Regions from separate parts of the Homo sapiens genome. Here region 1 is linked to region 2. The links come from fine-mapping of genetic effects on gene expression. A gene starts in region 2. The other region holds a variant in brackets. All regions are shown on one strand. Distances are from middle to middle.

Region 1 (11,844 bases), 30 kb before region 2:
ATTGCTTGAACCTGGGAGGCAGAGGTTGCAGTGAGTGGAGACCGCACCACTGCACTCCAGCCTGAGAGGCAGAGTGAGACTGTTTCCAAGAGAAAAATCACCGCGTAATTGATTTAAATGTGCAGGTGGGTTTAATACAACTCCAAAGATGCAGAATTCCTAGTTTAATATAACTTTCCTCAGCATGAGAATCATGTTGATCCTCCTCCTCTCCAGACACCAAGTGAGCTGATACTCTGGAGACAGAGCATGATCGCTTGGTGTGATGGAGCCACGGAGTTTTGTAGTGCAAGAAAAAGGGCTGCAGGTGATTGTTCCAGTTAAAGGGACCCCAGTCCCACCCCACTGTCAGGAGTCTGTTTTGTGTGGTTCTTGCTAGAAGAGGTCAGTAATACCCTCTCAGTGCTGTGGTCACTTGTCTTAGGAAAGCTTACACATGTAGCCAGTATGCATTCAAAACGAATCAGCACAAAACTGCCACGTACCCATCCACCTGTTAAGGAAAAGGCTCAGCACTGGGGAAGCTCTGAGGACACATAAATATGTTGGAGGACACCCACTCCCTGCCCCCAAGGAGGTCAGCACTGCCCATGGGATATACACATCCTCTACGTTTCTATTCTGTTGATAGCCAATATCTTGCATTTTGTAATTATAAACAGAACCTTGATTTTTAATAGTTTTACCACCTATATTTGCATCTCTAAACAGCAGTTTATTTTTGCCTATTTTTGAGCATTTTATAAATGAAGTTAACTTTATGTATTAAGGCTCAGGTTTTGAACGTACAAACTGTACCACACTGATTCAAATAGACATAGTTCATGTTGTGTTTACTAATATTTCAAGTAAAATAATGTAATTACAGGTATAATGTTTCTTCAAATCATGCAGCTCTCAGTAGAGTCTATTTATAGCAAAGATGCTTCACATTTGAAACCAACAGTGACTGGCAAATAGAATCCACCAGAAACCTGGGCACTCAAAATGTAACAGGCATGCAATCCATTGCAAGCCTGGTTAGGGAGGGGCTGTATCGCCTAGCATTACTCCCTAAAAAGTGGCCTCAAAACCTCAATGATAGGCAACAGGGGCCCACTTTGGGCATCTTCGCAGCCGTTGTCATAAAAAGTTTACATTCAGAAACTGGTCTCACCACTTCACTGCTCTCGCCGCAAGCACAGAGCACCATTATCTCCAGCAATTCCCAAGACCCTCACTCGCCCTGCACCTTACATTTCTTTGGCTCTGTATGGCAGTCACAGCTCTAAAGCTTCTAGTTGCAGAAGTTACTCCAGTGGGAATACTCCAAGTATGCCTCGTCCTCGCTTGCCTTGGCTTCTGCATAAGGTTAGTAAGAAGCAAAGCATGGCCAGGACTCCAGGGAAATGAATGGACGAAGACCAAGAAAGCCAGATGGCATAACCAGATAGCAAAACCAAGACATCATGGGCCACTTTGATGCTCAAGCCACCACCCACTGTCATTAACCGGGACAGGGAGGGGGTGGTGTGTTTTATGAATGGACTTGGTGCCTTCCATAATTCCCTCATCCTCAGAATCATGAACCGAGACACATACTTTGGGTTCTCCTTTCTGGGATGAGAGACGTGCAGATCTGTGTGGTCCAAGTTTGAATACTAGGGCCATCCTGCCTCTTTAGAATTCTGGGACGACCTCTCTTGCCAGATGCTGTTCCTCTGCCCTAATGGAATGTGGCGTCACAGTGCAGGGCTGAGGTCAGATCCACTCTTCTTAGTGGACACGACCTTCAGTTTTATAGAGCAAGAGGGTCTCATCTTAGAATATGTCTTTAAGTGACTGATTTTTAATCATTTACTTATTTGTTTGTTTATTTATTTATTGAGATGGAGTCTCGCTCAGTCGCCAGGCTGGAGTGCAATGGCACGATCTCGGCTCACTGCAACCTCCGCCTCCCGGGTTCAAGCGATTCTCCTGCCTCAGCCTCCTGAGTAGCCGGGACTACAGGCACCAGCCACCACACCCAGCTAATTTTCGTATTTTTAGTAGAGACAGGGTTTCACCATGTTGGCCAGGATGGTCTCGATCTCTTGACCTCATGATCCACCTGCCTCGGCCTCCCAAAGTGCTGGGATTACAGGCGTGAGCCACCATGCCCGGCCTAAATGAATGATTTTAAACCATATCCCTTTTCAAGTCACAGCAGTGCAACGCCTTAAAATCCAAGGCCCGTTTCCCTCTTGCTTTGATTGGTGGGCACAACCCTTAGTTCTTAGGAACCCAGGGGAACAGAGGTTGGGAAGAGAACTGCCGTGAGAAACCCAAATTGTTTAGGTGGCATCTGGGGTCAGCTAGACATTGACGAGGCAGCTCTGTGATGCTGGCTGGGCTTATTCACATTCACGTCTGGGGATTGGCTGGTAGTTGGGTAACCCCAACTAGCCTGGGCTGGGGGGCCGGGGTAGCTCAGCGGTCTTCCATATGGCTGTCGTCTTCCAACAGGCTCGTGTGGGTGAAGGCAGGCACAGACGGTGCACACACATGGCCCATTGCTTCCCCGACCAACCTGGAATCCAAAGGAAGAGGCAGGCGAGCAAAGCGGGCTGTACAGAGGAGGGGGCAGAGGTGCTTCTGAGAGGGGTATCGGACGGTGCTCAGGGAGCCTCAGGGGCCACCTAGCGTTGTGTTACCTCCAAAGCAGTGCTTTCTCGGAGTAACAGAGGGCGGGCCCAGAGCCAAATAGCTGGATTCTGAAACACAAAGAGCTACCACGAGACTAGTTTTTATTACACTAAAAATTCTTCATTAAGTTTTTATCATTGCCAACCTAAATCTATATAAACATATAATATATTTTATGTATATATTATTTTTACTTAAATATGTATGTATATATTTATAACATTTTATATACATATTTGTGTATAAATTTTCATAGATAATATTTATATATTTATATAGAACTTAGGTTGCCAATGATGAAAACCTAGTGAATAATATTTAGTATATTTATATATTTTATATAGTTATGAATATATAATATACTTAAGTTATATACATTACATTAAATATATTTAATTTATATTATACACAATATATTAGATTATATCTATAGTTATCATATTTATATATAAATACATACGCTTATATATAAATATAGGTAACTTTTCCCCTAAGTTGCTCCTATAGTTGTTTTTGGCTCTAGGGGACATGGAAGCAAGCAGGCAGATGAGGGGCCCAGGAATAAGTGACTCACTTCAGCACAAGCTGCATCTCCCGAGCCAGGGTGGAAATTTAGGAATTTGCTGATACACAGTCATGCCCCTCCTCCCTCCCAACATCAAAATTGACAGTGCTGCCTGGCCTGACCCGCCTCCCCTTGCTCATATCAGCCTGGCCTGGATCTGAGACCCCTGCCCAAGAGGGGCCTTGGATATAATTGCACTTCTCCTTTTCCAGACCCCACACAAGAAATAAGAAAAGCCTGGAGTCGTGTCCAGTCCTGACTGCTCCTTTCCCAGAGTTCTAGGCCTCTCGAAGGCTGAGGCCACGCTGGGATAAGAGGAAGACGGCACCGCTTGGAGACCTTCTGAGAATGGGGGCCAGGCTACACAATCCACCCGAGTTTTCTTCTTTTGTCCTCACAACCCTACGAGGCAAGAAATTGCCATCTTCACTCTCCCAGCTAGGGAAACTGAGGCTCAGAAAGGCCAAGCAATGGGCCCAAGTCATGCAGCGAGCAAGGGACAGGGCTGGGATTGGAAGCCAGGCCTCTCAGCTTCCAACGTCCTGGGGCTGGGAGCCGGTGGGGGTTCCAGGGCCCGGGAAGACCCCAAAGCCCAAAGTGAAATGCACCCTCTGCTCATGACCCGTTATATTGCAAGGGCTGCTAATTTCAATGTGATATGTCCTAGGAGGCATATATGTTAAATCACTCATTTCTCTAGATCAGGGATATGCAAACCAAGGTCCTCAGTCAAAATGGGCCCACAGCCTGGTTTTTGTTGTTGTTGTTGTTTTCTTGCTTGTTTTGTTTTGTTTTGTTTTGCTTAAGATGGAATCTCACTCTGTCACCCAGGCTGGAGTACAGTGGGCTGGATCTCAGCTGACTGCACCCTCCGCCTCCCTGGTTCAAGCAATTCTCCTGCCTCAGTCTTCTGAGTAGCTGGGATTTCAGGGGCCCACCACCACACCTGGCTAATTTTTGTATTTTTAGTAGAAACTGGGTTTCGCCATGTTGACCAGGCTGGTCTCGAACTCCTGGCCTCAAGTGATCCACCCGCCTCAGCCTCCCAAAGTGCTGGGATTACAGGCGTGAGCCACCGTGCCCAGCCCCACAGCCTGTTTTTATTAGCCATTTTTTGGACATGCCTGTTTGCTTGCGTGTTGCCTACAGCCGCTTCTGTTCTTTAACAGCAGAGGTGAGTCAGCATAACAGACAGTATGGCCCACGAAGCCGCCATATTTACTGCCTGGTCCTTGACAGAAAAAGTTTGCTAATTGCTGACCTGGATTAAAATCCACAGAACCTTTTCTATGCAGGGATGTGCTTCCCTATGTCCTGGCCATGCCTGGTCCCAGCACCACCTGTTTTAGCCAGACCTGTGTCTGGGCCAAGCTCAGCAAAGTTCTGCGATCTGATGTCATTTAAAGACACTGTTGACTGGGCATGGTGGCTCACGCCTGTAATCTCAACACTTTGGGAGGCCAAGGTGGCTGGATCACCTGAGGTCTGGAGTTTGAGACCAGCCTGGCCAACATGGTGAAACCCTGTCTCTCCTAAAAAAAAAATTACAAATATTAGCCAGGTATGTGTGGTGCATGCCTGTAATCCCAGCTCCTCAGAGGCTGAGGCAGGAGAATCTCTTGAACCTTGAAGGCAGAGGTTGCAGTGAGCCAAGATTGTGCCACTACACTCCAACCTGTGCAACAGAGTGAGACCGTCTCAAAAAAAAAAAAATAAAAGACAGTGTTAATATGGTATCAGATTGTGGCTGCCACATCACACATATTCTTTTCTCCTGCAGAGGCCATATTCAGTTTGGATAACCCTGAAATTTGGTTACTCGACTCTTAGTTAAATAATGTTTCTTTGCATTGTTGGTGGTTTGGGTAGTTTTCAATACGTGGGCTCGATGAAGACATAGACATATTATTCAGGATTTTTATTTTTCTTTTTTGAGACAGGGTCTTGCTCTGTTGACCAAGCTGGAGTGCAGTGATACAATCATAGCTCACTGCAGCCTTGAACTCCTGAGCTCAAGCAGTCCTCCCACATCAGCCTCCCAAGTAGCTGGGACTACAGGTATGTGCCACAATGCCCGCTAATTTTTTCTTTTCTTTTTTCTTTTTTTTTTTTTTTTGTAGAGATGGGGTCTCGCTATGTTGCCCAGGCTGATCTTGAACTCCTGGCCTCAAGCGATCCTCCAGCCTTGGCCTCCCAATGTGCTGGGATTACAGGTGTGAGCCACTGCCCCTGGTTATTCAGGCCTGTTACGTTCCAGATTCTTCCTTCACTTCCATAGAGAAATCCCTAGTGATAAAGAATTTATGAGCCAAGGGAAATATCTTGGAGTTTTAGGCATCTAATAAATATATTCATCTTCTGATGATGATGATAATTAGCATGTATTGATGCTTACCAAGCTCTGGGTAAAATGCTAAGTGTTTTACACATATTGTCTCATTTAATCTTCTCAACAATGCTATGTGCTCAGGTACTGAACAGCCTCATTTTACAGATGGGAAACTAGCAAAGTTGAAAGACTGTCCACGTTCACACAGCAGCAAATTAGACAAGCTGGAATTTGCACCTGTGCATTTGACTCCGAAGTCTGAACTCTCTCTAGGAATTTACACTCTGCAAGGGTGTGGAACACATACCAGACATCACATAAACTTTACAAATGATAAAGGAGCACCTGCCCTAACCCCAAGCAGACAGACAACAAGGGCCAGGATGGATTTTAGAACACTCTGACCTGTGAGAGAGGCGGACAGGCCTGCACCAGCTGTATTTCTGTAGTGACATACACAGGTGTATCACGCAGGGAGCCTGTCCAGTCACGGAGCCCTGGGACTGTACCATCAACACAGTTTTTGTTTGTTTGTTCTTCAGGTGACATCGAGAGCTCCCCCTGGGAGGTGGGGTTGGGGATGCTCCTTAGGAACCTCACTGGAAAGATGAGTCAAGCAGGTATCCAAGTCCAATTACCCGGCTCAGGGCTTGACATCACAGATGTGGGACTTGCCTGAGATGGGGCTGATGAGCAGGAAGCTGA[T/C]TGGGGCCCTTGCAGGGCAACACACAACAAACCAATCAAACCTCCTTCCTGAAATCACTGTGCGCGCTGTGGGGGTGGCAGCGGGGGAGGGGGGGCGTGGCTTCCTGCCAATACATCATGGGTATTATTTGTTCCCTCATGAAGAGCAATAGCAATGAAATCCACATTTCCAAATTATGGAGTGCTGTGTGCCTACGTGGCACTCAATGCCAGTAATACCAGGATGGGGGTTTGGTGACTGTGTCCTGGAGATGCCTTGGGGGTCTGGGAGCACCTGGACAGCACAGAAATCAGTTTCTCCAGCTGTAACCAGAGTGCCAGGAGATTCCTGCAGTTCATCTAGAGGACTTTTCCAGGAAACCCAGCAAACAGTAGGATCTCAGCCACACGAAATCATTTAGTTAAGTAGCTACAGTTTACTTTATGGAGTCGCCGTTTGCCATGTTAATTCTTGATGACAGCCCAGGATGTGGGCTGCAGACTGAACCCACTTCCTTCACCAGACTGACCACCGAGCACGGCTCTCCCTCCCTCCTCAGCCTCTCAAGATGGTAGATGCACCCACCTGCAAACTTTTCTCTCCGACAGAAAGGCCTCTTCTTCAGGACTAACTGACCTACCGCAGGCTACTGCCCCTGGAACTTGCCAGCAAATTCACTCCCGGGATCCATGTCAAATCAGGGTTGCCAGAGGAAAGTCAGGGCATGTATTTTCATCTGCTGACTTGGGGCAGCCCTGGGTCAAATCCCCATCCCTCAACTCAGCACCTCTGTTGCAACAAAGCAGGCACAGCTGCGGTTGCAGGTAGTTCTCGAGATACAGCAGGCCATTCCTGCAGGACTAAAAGCAGCTGCGATGACTTATTGGCCAAGAGAGAAAATGACCATCCAGCCAAGTCCTTGTAGAAATGAAAATGGAACGTAATGAACCAGTCTCTCTTACACTGGCCTGTCTGCCCCACCCACACTTAGTTTCTTTCCCCACTCTCCCTATAATAAAAATACCATGGGTTTTAAGACCATTTCATCACATACTTTATTGGACATCTCCTGTGGCTGGTCACTGGGATAGAGTAACCAGGAAATGCAGTCGGCCCTCATGAATGAACAAAACTTACAACCCCAGGAGGGGAGCCAGAAACTCAATTAGTGGCTTAGTTTCCACAACACTACGTGCTACAAAGAGGTACAGAACAATTCCAGGCAAACTAAGAACCTGCCCCAGCCTGGAGGACAGGCATGGGGGTGAGGGAACCCACAGGCAAGAAGCCTCCCTTAAGCTGAGCTCAGGACTGGATGAAATGATCTTGGTGGGGCAGGAGGGAAAGTTCCAGGCAGGGAAAACAGCAGGGAGTGTGTGGTGGTTGGAGGTGCCTGCCTAAGGGAGGCAGGAGATGGTAGGTACAGAGTTAGTGTAAGAAAGCCCAAGAGAGGCTGGGGGACCAGATCCCACAGGCCCTGGGAGGCGAAAAAGTAAAAACAGCTTGTATTTAATGGGAATGTCCTATTACATGGAAATTCACTTGGAAACTGAAGCTCAGAGAAGTTACCATACCATGGTGGAAATGGGTGGGTATTTGTTCTCAAATCCAGTCAGCCTAGGGGAATGGGCAGTATTTGTCAGATCTCTCCCTCCCCCAGTACCAAGGAGGGTTGTGTAGAAGTGGTGTTCATCTATTAAACACGGGGGTAGCCCTTAAATGAACATTTTTAACCCATCATCAACAGCCCTGTAAAATGAAAACCACCCTTAGCGTGCTCTTGAAATACTGTACTTACCAGGGTGAGAAAAGGTGCTGACATACTTCAGCAAGATTTCTGGTTAGAGCTGAACTCTAAAGGATTTTTCTACTAAACAGAATATTCCACTCCACAGGCATATGGCTGGATGAAATTTTTCTATGTGAGGTTCATAATTACTACTAAGTCTAAAGTGTTAGAACAACTTGATCATAGCAACATTCCTACTGAAAGTTTTGAGGTTGGCCTACGTAGAAGGAAGCATTTATGCCTCACACCTTCCAAAGTGCCTCTGCTAAGAGCCACTCTTCCTTGAACACCCTCCCCTGTTCTGCCCTGGTGCAATCCCTGTACCCTTTGCAGCCCTGTGAAGCCCTCAGATGTCCCCTCCCTGCCCCTTTCTATTCCCTCCCTCAAGCAGAATGTCATTCTCCCTTACGATCATGGATGACGCTGTGAGAACCCTATCATGGCAGCCAATATAGTACAAGTCAGTACCGCTGATTTCTGCATTCATTCAGCAAGTATTTATGATGTCACCTGGCTCCCCGCCAGACACTGGGGAAACAAACGTGGAGACAGGGCACTGCCCGCACAGGGCACATTTTGGGGGACAGCTACCCTGTCTGGTGCACCATCCTCACCTGCACCTGGCAAGGTGGGTGAATGGGGAGGAATCCAGACAGGTGACCTGGGGGATGGCGGGCTATTCTCTGATTTGGGGAACACAGAGAGGACAGGGGGCAAAGTGGAAAGTAAATGAAGATGAACGAGTTATATCTACAAGTCTGAAGCTGGAGAAAGATGTCTGGGCTTCAAAGGAGATTTCGGAGGCAGCGGCTCACAAGGAAGCGATCCTGAAATCGTGGCTGAAGGTGCTGAGTGCTCAGTCTCTCCAAGGATGATGATGCTTTACAGAGTACTGGTGTCACTTCCTGTACTGGGTGGCATCGGGCTGCCAGATAGAGTCAGAAAGAAAACAGGCGGGAGCAGAGCCAGTAAACTTCCGAAGCTTTCAATGACAGGAAAGCTGGAGATTAGGAGCCAGTTTGAGGTCGTGATGGCCCACAGCCTGGGACCCTGAGATTCCGCGGGTGGAGAATGTCTCAGGTGAGAGCAACCCTAGTTAGAAAAGTATTCCCAAGAGACCAAGGCAAGCCACGAGTCACTCCTTACAGAAAGTCACTCTTGGTCCCTAAAGATGTGCTCACGAGTCATTCTCCAAAGCACAAAACTTTATTTTCAGAAAGGAAAGGACATCAAAAATAGGACTGTCCTGTGCAGATGTCCAATAGCCTTAATTTGGGGACCAAATGCCCCCGGCCATTGGAAAGACAGATCTTGTAAGCTCCATTCATCCGTGCGCTCATCCATTCATTCGTGTTTACCGAGTGCCTGCTCAGTGTTGGGACAGACGAGGATAGTTGTTCCTGCCACCGTGCCCTGGAGGACATAGGCAAACAAACGACGACACAGTGTGGCAAGTGTCACAGTTAAGGCTGCTGTAGGGTGGCTGTGGGTGGTGACAGACCTCAAGGCTTCATTCTGCAAAGCTGAGGGCAAACCTTGGCCCAGACTCCTTCACAAAGCCCCCGGTGTTCAACTATTCTCAGTCCAGGAGCCCAGCAGTGCTCCCAGTGGAGTTTATGAAGCCGATTCAGACCCAGCAAATCCAAAGTTTTCTTCCCTTAAGCAGACTGACAGCCTTACTTACAGAATTCACTTGTAATTTATGACAAAAACTGCACTAGAACTTATCACAAAACTAACTTTATTATATTTTTCCCAGTTCGATTTTTCTGTCAAATATCTTCACTGTCCCTATGACTTCTGGTTCTTATTTTCTTGACACACACATTGTCCTCAGCCTGTGTGGGAAGAAAAAAAATAGAACTCTTAAGTAATTTAAACACCCATTTTTAGAATCGACCTCCTCTGCAAAACCCCAAAGGCTTACTAGGTATTATGCAGGTCCTTAGTTGCAGAAAATTAATTTTGAGGTTGGAAATAAGTTTTAAAATATATTCCATTAACATTGTTTTTCTTGACTTGAACTGCTTTTATTATGCAGTTTTTTTACACTTAAATAATGTGATCTTTTCATACAGAAGTTCCTAATGCATTTTTAAGCTAATTCATAATAAAATTTCTTCATCGATGCACACATTTTCACAAACTAAAAAATGTCACTCAGAAAAAGTGAATCCAACCAGGATTAAGTCTTTTGGGTCTCCTAAACCAAGGAACCCCTGTAGACAGAAGCATGCCCAACTTGCATGCAGGAGACCTGCCTTGGCCTTTACTCTTGCAGTAGTTCTCACCCCTTGGCTAAGGGAGAGGAACCATGGTGAAAAGCATGGCTACAAGCTTCTTACTGGAAAAAATCTATCTTATATATGCATTTTCTAGGACTACCGACACCCACCGAAGAGCTCGGCAAAGAGGAGCATGTGTGTGTTGGGCGTCTCCTGGGTGCTTGTGTGTGAGAAGAGGCTGGAACGCCCCCGGCAGAACACACCAGGCCTGGCTCAGCCTTGGGCCTGGTTGCTCTGTGTTTAGGAATCATCCTAGTTAAAAGATTCGCTTTCACCCTTCTTTGGTTTCATTCTGAGGAAGCAGCACCTTCCAGACTGTGAATTCGGTAAGCGCCTGGAGCCTGCGTTTTATTGTAAGACTCGACGGGTGAACGTGCTGACCCACGTCAGCTGTTGCGTCCCTGGTGTGCCTGTGGTTTCTAGGACCTTGTCTGGCACTGTCGGGTGTCTTCTGCTTCCAGCCTGCCCCAGAAGTACAGTCTCTGACTTAGGACACCTGTGTGGGCATCAGTGCCCTTCTTGAGCCTCTCCTCTTCCCTCTCTGGAACAGTCTATGGGCATCTCCCCACTAGGACTTCCTGCCCACCATCCAGACACACAAGCCCTCCCCCTCCACTGGCTGCCTGGCTATGCAGCAGGTACTGGGGACACCTGGGAATCTTTCCTTTTCTTGGCAGTTGAAGCTTCCTAGTTTGTGCCGAAGAGGGTCTGTCTGGACAGCTGTACTTGCCAGAATTCTGTATCTGAAGAGGTTATTGCTACATGAGTTTCGTTTGCTGAACTCAGAATATGGTAGTTTTAGGTCCAAATTTTGTGTGTGCTAAGAATTAAATTTATATTATATTTTTGTGAATTGCTCACAAAAAGGGAGCAATTCAACCTATTTTTATTTTAGCTAAACCAAGTATTCCCCAGAAGAACACTAATGGAATCTAATCATTCTTATGGATTTGTCCACATGCTTGTAATTATGAGTGGCTCAACTTGATGTGATTTCAGTAGCACTTAAAGTTCATTAGCTTAGATAGTCTCTGGCTGGAGGAGGGTTGGAGGGCAGACGCATCCCCCACTGACCAGGAACTCTCACATAGTGAGCATGTGTCTCAGGGACATCCCAACTTCTGTTCCTTCTGCCTTTCCAAAGAATGCCTTGGAAATTTTTCTGTTTCAATAGTTTTTTTTGGAAAAAGAATTTTCCTGTTTCAAGAGGTGATTTTGAACTACAGAAAGGCTGAAGACATCTACCTACAATTGTATCATGAGGTACATCATAAGCAGTCAGAAATTAGCCACTAGACAAATTCCTTTTCTTTCTGAAGAAAGTCTTCATAACGTGAATTTGCTATTTGAAGTGAAATTCCCAAAGTAGACACAACAAAATATAACTAAAATGACCAAATTTATGTCTTAGCATAATGCTCCTTCCATTAATGTAACTGGGAGCTGGCAGAGTGCTGTTGAAGATAATGCTTTTTGTTTGCCTTTGCAACCTTGGGCAAAAAATACATCAAAACATTCTGTGTCTTT
Region 2 (11,844 bases):
GTCTCCATATCCACTTAATGTCCAAGGATCAACGAACAAACTTTGGGTTTAGTTCAAGACATCACCTTATACAAAGAAATAAATTTAGAGTTAGAAAAGTGCTTTTACACTAAAAACTAGGATTAGTTGCATCGAGTTTGTTTTGAAATACCACTGTCAGAGGCTGGGGACCCAGATTAACTTCTGATCACTGACGAACAGCCCAGGTATGATTTGACAATATTACCAAGCACCTTCTATGACATAAGCTAATGCACATGAGAGCAAAGTCAAGTTTCTTCTAGTTTAAGTCCATGGAAATCATCGGATGGCTTGGAAGGCCAGCCAGGAAGCCTGTAGGTAACTGAATCTTTCTCACGTTGTGAAGTTACATACTTCAGGGTAAATAAAAAGCTACACTTACACTACAGGGTAACTACAAACCTATATTTTAGAACACTATGATCACTTCAGTTTCCCACACATTCAGTCTGTATCTGAACAAGACAGGTACATCTTAAGAAGATCACCTTTAGCAAGATACATAATTGTCCTGGCAAACCTCAGTGATCAAGTCATAGAAGCAATCCTTTATTTTGCATAATGAAAACTTTTGGCCTCAGTGAAATGACCTGATTTGAATTTATAGGCAACCTAAGTAAGATCTGAAGCAGTCACACATCTGATATTATTTCTCATGGTAGAGAGTTTGGAATCAAGTCTCTCTTTCTAAGATTCACTTTCAAATCTTTGTTGGATGTCTTTAATCATCTGAATTTATCTCAATTTGGATAATATCTTGTTTTGAAAAATAGTTCAGCCCTCCAATAAACATCAAAAGCTTCCTACCTATAGGCCGGGCGCAGTGGCTCATGCCTGTAATCTCAGCATTTTGGGAGGCTGAAGCAGGTGGATCACTTGAGACCAAGAGTTCAAGACCAGCCTGGCCATCATGGTGAAACGCCGTCTCTACTAAAAATTGCAAAAATTAGCCGGGTGTTGTGGCGCGTGCCTGTAATCCCAGCTACTTGGTAGGCTGAGGCATGAGAATCACTTGAACCCGGGAGGCGGAGGTTGCAGTGAGCCAAGATCACACCACTGCACTCCAGCCTGGGTGACAGAGCAAGACTCTGTCTCAAAAACAAACAAACAAACAAACAAAAAGAAAAAGAAAAAAAGAAAAACTTCCTACATAGAAGTCTGTATTCAATAAAAATACTCTTTAAAAATGAAGGCAAACTTCCCAGAAGCACAGTAAAAGAAATGACTAGGGAATTTAAGTGGTGCATTAAAAAACAGCTAATACAAATGAAGACAATAACAGAGATTCATTTAGCAGAATGGATTTTTAAATGACCCAACTAATACGTTGTCTACAAGAGACGCAATTTTGATTCAAAGACACAATCTTTTAAAATAAAAGCATGGGAAAAGATATACCATGCAAACAGCAAGCAGAGGGGAACTGGAGTACTGTACTAACATGAGACAAAATCATCTCAGACAAAAGTTATTCATAGAGAAAAAGGACATTTTATATAAGGATCAATCCAGCAAGAAGATATTCCAGTTAAACACAAGAGGTCACCTGACAACAGGTTCCAAGAGACAACTTAAACCATAACAATTATGAAAAGTTAAAATTAAGGGGGTGGAAAAGTTATACTACACAAGCACTCATCAAAAGGAAATTAGTTTAACCATACTCATCATCCAAAGGAAACATTAAGCAGAAAAGAAAGCACTACTAAAAACAGAGGACATCTCTAAATGACAGAGTTCCATGCACCAAGACATCATTCTAAGTTTGTACACCATAGTACAGCCTCAAAATATACAAAGCAAAAACTGATAGAGATAAAAACAAATCAATCAATCAATCCTCAGTAGGTGATTTGAACATATCTCTTAGAATAATAGTAGGGGAAAATTTACTAAGATTATAGATTTGAATCTAACGGGAGTGTGTGTATCTGTATATGTGTATATATATTACATATTATATATGTATATATTATATATTATATAATATAAATATATTGTATATATATTGTATATGTATTATATATACCATATAGTATATACTGTATACAGTATATACTATATGGTATATATAATATATATTATTATATTATATATTACTATATAACATATAGTATATACTATATAATATTATATATTATATTATAATTATATATGATTATATATAATATATTATAATTATATATTATATAAGTGATATATATAATAATTATATATTACATATATATGAGACACTGTAGAATACAGTTTTCAATTACACAAGGCAGATTAGTAAGATAATTAGCCATATCTGCTCATAAAGCAAACCTTGACACATTTCAAAGACTAGACATTAGTCAAATGTCCATCAAGAATGAATGAATTCTGTATAGTTATGTATATTATTGTATATATTAAACATTTTTTTTTCAGTGAAATACTTATGCCATGAGAAGGAACAAACTACAGAGATGTCCAACATGCTATGAATCTCACACACAGAAAAGCACAAGCCAGGCACAAATGTATACATTCTTGTATCACTGTTAAGGACTTTTATAAGAACAGACAAAACTATCGTGTTCAGAGATCCATGCTTAGGTAGTGAAACTCGAGACGTTTATGATATCCTAAAAGCCAAAACGGTGGTTTACTTGCTGAGGGAATGAAGTAGTGATTAGACAACAGCATTTTTAAAAAGCTTCTGGAAATGTTCTATATGAGCTGAGGATGTATTAGTCTGCTAGGGCCACCATAATAAAGTCCCACAGACTGAATGCCTTGAAAAACAGACATGCCCTTCTCAGTGCTGGAGGCTGGAAGTCCAAGAGCAAGGTGTCAGCTGGATTGGATTTCTCTGTGCCTCTCTCCTTGACTTGAAGATGGCTGCCTTCTTGCTGCCTCTTCTCATGGGCTTTCCTCTGTGCACGTGTTCCCTAATCTCCACTTATAATGACACCAATCATCAGATTAGGGCCCATACTAATAGCTCAAAAAGCCTTCATTGCCTTTTTAAATGCCCTCTTTCCAAATACAGTTACATCCTAAGGTACGAGGGGTTAGGAATTCAAAATATGAATTTCGGGAGAGCACAAATCAGTCCATAATAGGTGGTGATCAAAAGGGTGTTCACATGATAAATTGACCTGTCCATCTTGTTTTGTACCTTTTTCTCTGTGTATATTTTGCTTTAAAATAAAAAAGAATAGAAAAATCTCATGCAGTTTCAAAACACTTGGAAGAAAATAACAAACTCCTTTAGGACAAGGTCAACCTCCCTCTGCATAATTATTTGCACCCAAATCCTTGAATTCCATCACATTTTGTCCCAATTAGTCATCTTCCTAGATCCATATCCTTTTAAATTAAGATTAGTGTTGAGAATGAAAACCTGAAATACTTTGACATCCATGAACATTAAAGAAGAATGACAGTTGACTTTGACACTAGTTTATGGTTAATCAGAAGATGACATTTACTGTTAGACCAATCAGCTTTTACCTACCTGAAGGAACGATCAATAATAGTTATTACATCTCCATGTTTTAGCCGTACAGGCTCATCAATAACAGACCCATTTACTTGTGTTGGATTTGTGGAACTGAAATTATGTAATATTGCCTGCAAGTGAAAAGAAGGGGAAATATGTAACTAATGAACAGATTAAAAGTGAACTAAAAAGCTTTAAAAGTAGATCTTCAAAAAACCCACTCACCTCCTGCTCATGGATTTCAATTTTGCAATGTTGTTTTGACACAACAGGAAGCTGGATACGGATGTCACATTCAATACCCCTTCATGCAAAAGAAGAAGGTTTTTTTGGTTGCTGCAACTTTTTAAAAGATTACCTCAATTTCCCAAAATAAAACACAATTTGACTAGAATGTTTGATCTGTAAATATGACATAAAGGAGTAACAAACAAAATGGGCAATGTAAACGATCTTGCATTTTGCAAAGAACTTTTGGAAGTATTAAACATGTAACTATTAGATCTTTAAAACAGAGAGTATGTAAAAACAAGGGAAAACACTAGAACACAAATCGAATTACCTTTTATATGAAAAGCTATACTTAAAAGACACAAAGGAATACTTACATCAATTTTGGATAATGACTATTTTTAATACTCTGTGCTTTTTCAAAAACGTTTGTTTGTAATGTTAAATATGTTTAGAGGTTTAATCATCCCCAAATGTGCTTATTTGATGCTAGCACTTCTGTGCATCAGTTTCTTCATATACAATAAAGAAATTACATTAGAACCTACATCATGTGATGTTCAATTAAATGGTTGTACATGTCACTAATTTGCCTAGCACATAGTAAATGCTCATTATGGGTAAGCTTTTCATTGTTGTTTTAAAACTACACTGAATTTACTGACAGATTCAAGTCTCTAAACAATAAAAATACTAATTTGCAAGCGACACAAAAAAAAAATCTAAATTCAACTTGTTTTTCCACAGAAAGCTAACACCATGGCAAAGTAGCAGAAGAGACAATTCCTAAACCTATACAAACTAATAATCAGAAGAGTTTGTTAGTAGGTTCTTGGAGTCTTCAGTGTTCCTGTTCTAGCCTGTGATCTTAAAAATTTGAATAAACTATGCAATGGCCTGTCTGTTCTCCATCTGAACCTTTGGAGTCTAAGAATCTCTCTTCCTACCCAGGTCATGTGACCAAACACTTAGGAATTATTTCTAAATTATAAAATCTTGCATGAAGATATATTCAAGGAGTACTGTATAAAAAAGCAAAAGGACTGCCACTGGAGATGAAATGTTTATATTTTTCCTTTTCAAGAGAAAGGTATCTATGGAAAGTGAAAAGCTTCCTTAACCCCAATAAAATAATTTGATTTTAAGGTAACAGGACATCAGAGCAAAGGAAAGACTATCCCTTACAACTGAGAATTTGTTTGGCAGGAGGACGACTATAGATGGGTGTTTCTGAGCTTTGGCACTGTTGACATCTTGGGCCAGATGCTTCTGTATTGTGGGGGCTGCCCTGAGCCTGGTAGGATGCCCACCCTGACCTCTCCTCCGCGATGACAGCGCATGCCCCTGTCCTATATTGTGACATGGAAATTCAAATGAATCCTGGAAGGTTAGATGACCCTCCTGTGAGAACCACTGTTCTCAAGAGATTGCAAATCCATGGCTCCAGCCCATGTTTCTACTGACCCTTGCCAGAATGCTAGGTATTGATCACACCCCCTATGCCAGACACCATCCCTGGCCCTACACACGTGATTAGTAACAAGACAGTCTTTGCCTTTGGGGAGCTCAGCCTAGTGGGAGACAAACCCACAACTCACCCCTGAAGCTGTGGGGTTGGAAATACAAGTTTTCATGCAAGGCTTCCTCAGAGGTGACATTTCACCTGATGCCTGAATGATGGAAATCACACAAGCTTGAGGAAGGGGAGAACTTTCCCATTGTAAACTTCCAAGTGTGTAAGAAGTACCAAGGTGAACAAAGGCTTGGAATGCCTTAGGCGGGAGGAACAAGGTAGGGGATGGGGTTGGGAGGACAGGGTGAGGCCGGGATGGGGTTGGGAGGACAGGGTGAGGCCTGAATCCCGTGTGGTCTGGGAAATGACCACACGGGAAATGACCCCCCTTCTCAGGCCTCTAGTGGGACACATGTCAGAGGCTGATGGGGCACTGTCAGCAACTATACCTGTTATACAGGGACAGGGTTATTACCACCACCAAACAGGACAGCAATATAAGAGGAAACGTTCTCGAATTCCAGGCAGGAAGACTTTCTGTCCCATTTTCCTATTGCCACAAGGAGCCAAGAGACAAGTGTATGGCTTCCTTCCTTCATTCTCTGTGTCCCCAGTGGCCAGGGATGCCCACTGTGGAGGCACCCGGGGGCGCACAGTGTCTTCAGACGCCTGCCTGCAGCCAGTGACATATGAAGATCATCTACATCTTTCTTTACCGCAACATTAGCAAATCGATTTTTTTAATTGGCTTGATTTTTAAAACCACTTAAACATACAAACTAGCATCAAATTTATACTTACAAAACAAAAAAACACAACTATGTCAACTTAGTAACGAATGGGAGAAGCACCAAGGAAAAGTGACGGCAGGACCCAATCCTAGAGCGCGTTTCTGGACTTTATTCTGTGACTAAGGTATTTTCCTCTTTCTCAGCTAAAACGTCCGCGCGCGCCCGCGGGGCTCACCTTCCAAACAAGCAGGTGCTGAGGCTCAGGGGAAAGTGGGGACCGTCGACCCCGCTCCTTTTGATAGTAACCAGGCGTCTCGTGGGCCACATTTTCTAAACAGTAAGTTGAGTATAATCCGTAGGGGAAGGCCAGGTATAATCCGTAGGGGAAGGCCAGAAGCAAATTTACAACTCTTCCACTGCAAAAGAGGTGCGAGTTACTCTGATAGCAAAGGAGCTAAGAAGGGCCCCGTGCCCAATTCACCTATCCCCGGCCACAGAAGCGCACACCGCAGCTAGCTAGCGGGGACCCCAGGACGATCCGACCGCAGCCCCCGGCGCCCCAAAGTCCGGCAGCTGGGGTGTTGTCGCCAGCGCCTGCGCCTCCTGGGAGCTTCCACCGAGACGCCCTCGCCAGAGCCCAGGAGGAGTCGGGCCCAGGCCGCGCGTCTGTCCCCTGCCCGTCCCCGCAGAGCTCGGGGGGTCCCCGCGGCTCAGCCCTCGACCCCGGACAGCTCCCAGGAGTCCCGGCCGCAGCTCACCTGGGACGATCCGGCCCGCAAGGCCACTTGTCGAACCACCGCTCGTCAAGTCGCACCCAAAGTCCGCCGCAGGAGGAGCCGGCGCCGCGCTCACCTCCGCCCGGTAAGCTGCGCCCGCCACGCTCCGCACACACCGGGCCGCAGCCCGCGGGGTCGCGTTCGCTGCACCCCGGCCTGCAGTCCCCGCTGCTCCCGCCGCCGCCTCTGACGGGGACCCGGTGGCCCTACAGGCTACGTCCCCGGGCGCCCGGCTCTAGCGGCTCCCACCGAGTCGAGTCCTCCCGCCCGCCCGCCCGCCCGCAGCGTCAGCCCTCCACTTCCTTCTTCCAGCCCGGCGCGCCCGCCCAATTCAAACGAAAACGAAGATTCAAATTCTGGCGCTAAGCGCTGCGATTGAACGGGAAAGCGCGGCATGGGACCAATAGGAAGGGAGCGCAGGGCGTGGGCGGGGAGGGGGCGGGGAAACCGGGCTCGCGGGGCGGGGCTGGCGTGTCCGCGGGCGAGCCACTCACGCATCCGGAGGAAAATACCTGGGTGCATCCCCGGCGAGGGCGGCTGGCGGAGGGCAGAGGTGGAACACGCTCCCACCGAGATAACCCGTCCTGCTATCCTTTTCTTAAAGGACCAAACATCTGGGACACTATAACATTACTCATTGCCAGAAGATTTAAAACTGCTAAAAATTAAAAACAGGCGGGACGCGGTGGCTCACGCCGGTAATCCCCGCACTTTGGGAAGCTGAAGCAGGAAGATCCCTTGAGCCCGGGAGTTCAGAACCAGCCTGGGCCACCTGGAGAGAACCCATCTCTACAAAAAATTCGCCAGGCGTGGTGGCGCCCCTGTAGTTCTAGCTACTGGGACAGCTGAGGTGGGAGGATCGCTTGAGCCGGGGCGGTCGAGGCTGCAGTGAGCTGAGATCGCGCCACTGCACTCCAGCCTGGGCGACAGAGCAAAGCCCTGTCTCAAAAAAAAAAAAAAAAAAAAAAAAAAAATCGAAACCTTCCTCTTCAGTGCATACATCTTACCAAACACAAAAACAACCAATTATATAAAGTAGTTTGGTGTGTCTTTTCCTGCTATACGTGTATTCTCTTTTTCAAAAGCACAGAAAAAAAGGTCATAACATACACAACACGATTCTATACTTTGTGCTCTCTGCTTTTAAATATCCTGAGGCTATCTCCACTGAACACATTCTCGCTTTTACTCTCTGATGGCTGCAGAGCACTGGGCTTCGGGAAACCATAATTTACTTAATCATTACTATTGCCACATACTTAGGTTTACAATGTTTTGTTATTAGAAAACATTCTTCAATTGAAATGGCTTGTGCATGCCAAGATGGGTGAATCCTAAAATAATTCTACACAGGATTCTATCGGGGTCTGCTTCAGTTGCGCTGGTGGCCATGTGGGCTCAGTAGGCCACCTGGGGTGAAGTGAATGGAGCCTAAACACGCTTTTGGTGACAACGGCCTCTCTGCCCCATCTCACCTCCTCCAGCTCCCCAGCAACCCTTGGAGCTTGGCTCCCTTGATCAGGGAGGCCTCGATGCAGGGGACCCCTGAGGACTTCCTATTCCTTTCAGAGAGTCCATAAGGTCAAAACCATTTATCTAATGACCCTCTGTGTTACTTGCCCTTCTCATTCTCATGCTCCCAAGAGTGTGGGGTGTGGTTCTGCAAATGCAGAAGCAGTGAGGAGACTCCCACTGTCTCCGTTTCAACCAGGTATTACAGAGATTTGCAAAAATGTGAACTAAAGCGCTGTTTTCATTTTGTTGTTTTTTTTCCATAAAAATAAGTTATTGGTGTTAGCATGAAATAGGTGCATCACTATCTTAAAATGAATCAATAAATGAATATTTTTAAATTCCTTAGCCTTAACTTAAAATATATAAATATAGCTAGATATAACCCATCCACATTAACAAAAATTCCTGGTGGTTCTCAATAATTCTTAAGAGTGTAAAGGGACCACAAGATTGAAAAGACTGAGCCCTCTGCTCTAGAGCAACTACAAAGATATCAGCTGCTGATGGAAATAGAGAAACTGGGAAAGCAACATAAAAGCACAGGACAGCAACTCTAAATTGTATGGGCCAAGTCTGACGTAGAAAAATTCAGTGCGGGGATACTATTATATAAACGTTTTAGGGGGCATGAGTTTCCATGTTTTCCCCCATTAAACGATCAAACAAAGCCCACCACTGCATAACCCCATAAAACACAACTTTTCTCATCCTAATTACTGCTTGTTTCCAGAGACAGTTCTTCCACCCTCATGGATGCAGCCTAATTAGAACTAGAAGGTGCTAGGCCAGGCGCAGGGGCTCATGCTTGTAATCCCAGCACTTTGGGAGGCCAAGGTGGGTGGATCATGAGGTCAGGAATTCAAGACCAGACTGACCAATATGGTGAAACCCCATCTCTACTAAAAATACAAAAATTAGTCGGGTGTAGTGGCACACGCCTGTAGTCCCAGCTACTCGGAAGGCTGAGGCAGGAGAATCACTTGAACCCGGGAGGCAGTGGTTGCAGTAAGCCAAGGTCACGCCACTGCGCTTCAGCCTGGGCAACAGAGCGAGACTCCATCAAAAAAAAAAAATAGAAAAGAGAGAGAGACAGAAAGAAAGAACGAAGGAAAGAAAGAAAGAAAAAGAAAGAAAGAAAGAGAGAGAGAAGAAAAAGAGAGGAGAAAAAGAAAGAAAGAGAGAAGAAAAAGGAAGAAAGAAAGAAAAACATTTTGAGTTACTTCTTTGAAACATTTTGAGTTACTTCTTTTCTGTTGTTGCTGTTGTTGTTTTTCTTTTTTGAGATGAAGTCTCACTCTGTCCCCCGGGCTGGAGTGCAGTGGTGCAATCTCTGCTTACTGCAACCTCCGCCTCCCAGGTTCAAGCGATTCTCCTGCCTCAGCCTCCCAAGTAGCTGGGATTACAGGTGTCTGCTGCTAAGCCCAGCTATTTTTTTTTTTTGTATTTTTAGTGGAGATGGGGTTTCACTTTTTTTTTTTTGAGACTGAGTCTCACTCTGTCACCCAGGCTGGAGTGCAGTGGCACAGTCTTGGCTCACTGCAACCTCTGGCTCCTGAGTTCAAGCAATTCTCCTGCCTCGGCCCCCTGAGTAGCTAGGACTACAGGTGTGAGCCACCACGCACAGTTTATATATATATATATATTATGTGTGTGTGTATATATATGTATGTGTGTGTGTGTGTGTGTGTATATATATAGTATACTGTCGCTATATATATGTATATATGTATATATATGTGTGTATATATATAGTATACTGTCTCTATATATAGTATATAGTATGTGTGTATATATATAGTATACTGTATATATAGTAATTATATATAGTATATATACTATATATAACAATTATATATAGAGTATATATACTATATATAATTAGTATATATATTACTATATATATATATATATATATAGTAATTTTAGTAGAATCAGGTTTTCACATGTTGGCCAGCTGGTCTCGAACGCCTGACCTCAAGCAATCCGTCCGCCTCGGCCTCCCAAAGTGCTGGGTTTACAGGCGTGAACCACCGTGCCCAGACTTCTTCCTGGCTTTTAATCTGGTCTCTTGTGGGGAGGTTGCCCACACTTTTCTTCCCAACTTTCTTCTCTGTTACGTAAGTCAGGGACAATGTATAGTTCCTTCCAGACTTCCGTATTCTACTTTCATTGATCTTGGACCTACAAGTCGGTTTTGTAGCTCCATTTTTGGAGTTTTATTTTTTTCATGATCTTCTTTCCATTTTCATCTCCTTTAAATAGTTTCTACTAATATAGGAAAACTACGGATGTATTGTTCTTTATTGGTTATGTTTCTTGTTCTTGGACACAAAGGCATTCCCTAGGGAAATCAGAAGACATCTACAAAATTCCAATAATGATTGAAACAAATCTCAAAATTCAACTAAAAGTAAACTCAAAAAGAAATGCATTTAAAAATATTAGGCTGATTAATTTTTTAAGATGTCAGTAATCTAAGATATCCAATATGATGCTTTGCCAATCTATGAACAAGAAAAGTCTGATTATAACAGCTTACATTATAGCAAAATGCCCCATTACACAGGCATCAAATGAATTTCTTATCACTTAGTCATCTCTGCTAAAACAAAACAAAACTCTTCATGACTGGACTTTCGTCATACTTCTCTCCACACACTAGTAACCTCTCTAACAACTCCAACAATTATGTTGACTGCAGAATACACATTCCCTGTATGTACTGCTCTGATTGTTTTCCTATTTGTACCCAATGCTCCTGATGATAGTGTCTAGAGCAACATAAGACTAAGCTGCCCATCTTTTCACTGAATAATTTTTCACACATTTGAAGATGAACACAACTCATTCACTTCCTGAAATATTCTCGTTAAAATTTTTATTAGCAGTTTTTGCTGTTATTGTTGTTGTTTGTTGTTGTTGAGATGGAGTCTCGCTCTGTTGCCTAGGCTGGAGTGCAATGGGCATGATCTCGGCTCACTGCAACCTCCACCTCCTGGGTTCAAGCAATTCTCCTGCCTCACCCTCCCGAGTCACTGGGACTATAGGCATATGCCACCACGCCCAGCTAATTTTTGTATTTTGGGTAGAGATGGGGTTTCATCCTATTGATCAGGCTGGTCTCAAAATCCTGACCTTAGGTGATCGGCCTGCCTCAGCCTCCCAAAGTGCTGGGATTACAGACATGAGCCACCGCACCCGGCCTTATTAGCAATTTTGACTAGTTCTTCCTTTTTTTTTTTTTTTTTTTTTGAGACGGAGTCTCGCTCTGTCGCCCAGGCTGGAGTGCAGTGGCGGGATCTCGGCTCACTGCAAGCTCCGCCTCCCGGGTTCCCGCCATTCTCCTGCCTCAGCCTCCCAAGTAGCTGGGACTACAGGCGCCCGCCACTACGCCCGGCTAATTTTTTGTATTTTTAGTAGAGACGGGGTTTCACCGTTTTAGCCGGGATGGTCTCGATCTCCTGACCTCGTGATCCGCCCGCCTCGGCCTCCCAAAGTGCTGGGATTACAGGCGTGAGCCACCGCGCCCGGCCTAGTTCTTCCTTTTCCCACACTTAGTCTGTTCCTCTATCATGCCTGAAGGATTCT

Evidence for each region.
Region 1: its variant is fine-mapped to the expression of MKI67 in whole blood (TOPMed, PIP above 0.99).

What each region holds. Positions count from the first base shown.
Region 1 is chr10:128,089,386-128,101,229 of GRCh38, forward strand. It overlaps MKI67 (marker of proliferation Ki-67), which reads right to left. Exons shown (of 15, transcript NM_002417.5): 15 at 7,274-9,870. The coding sequence ends at 9,805. Among named protein-coding and RNA genes, the nearest start is that of MKI67, 31 kb to the right of the region's middle. RefSeq lists enhancers at 2,002-2,503, 2,504-3,003. The variant T/C (reference allele first, on the strand shown) is at 6,264.
Region 2 is chr10:128,119,376-128,131,219 of GRCh38, forward strand. MKI67 (marker of proliferation Ki-67) reads right to left here and starts at 7,048. Exons shown (of 15, transcript NM_002417.5): 1 at 6,724-7,048; 2 at 6,201-6,381; 3 at 3,716-3,794; 4 at 3,506-3,621. The coding sequence starts at 6,292. RefSeq lists a silencer at 6,828-7,197 and an enhancer at 7,308-7,537.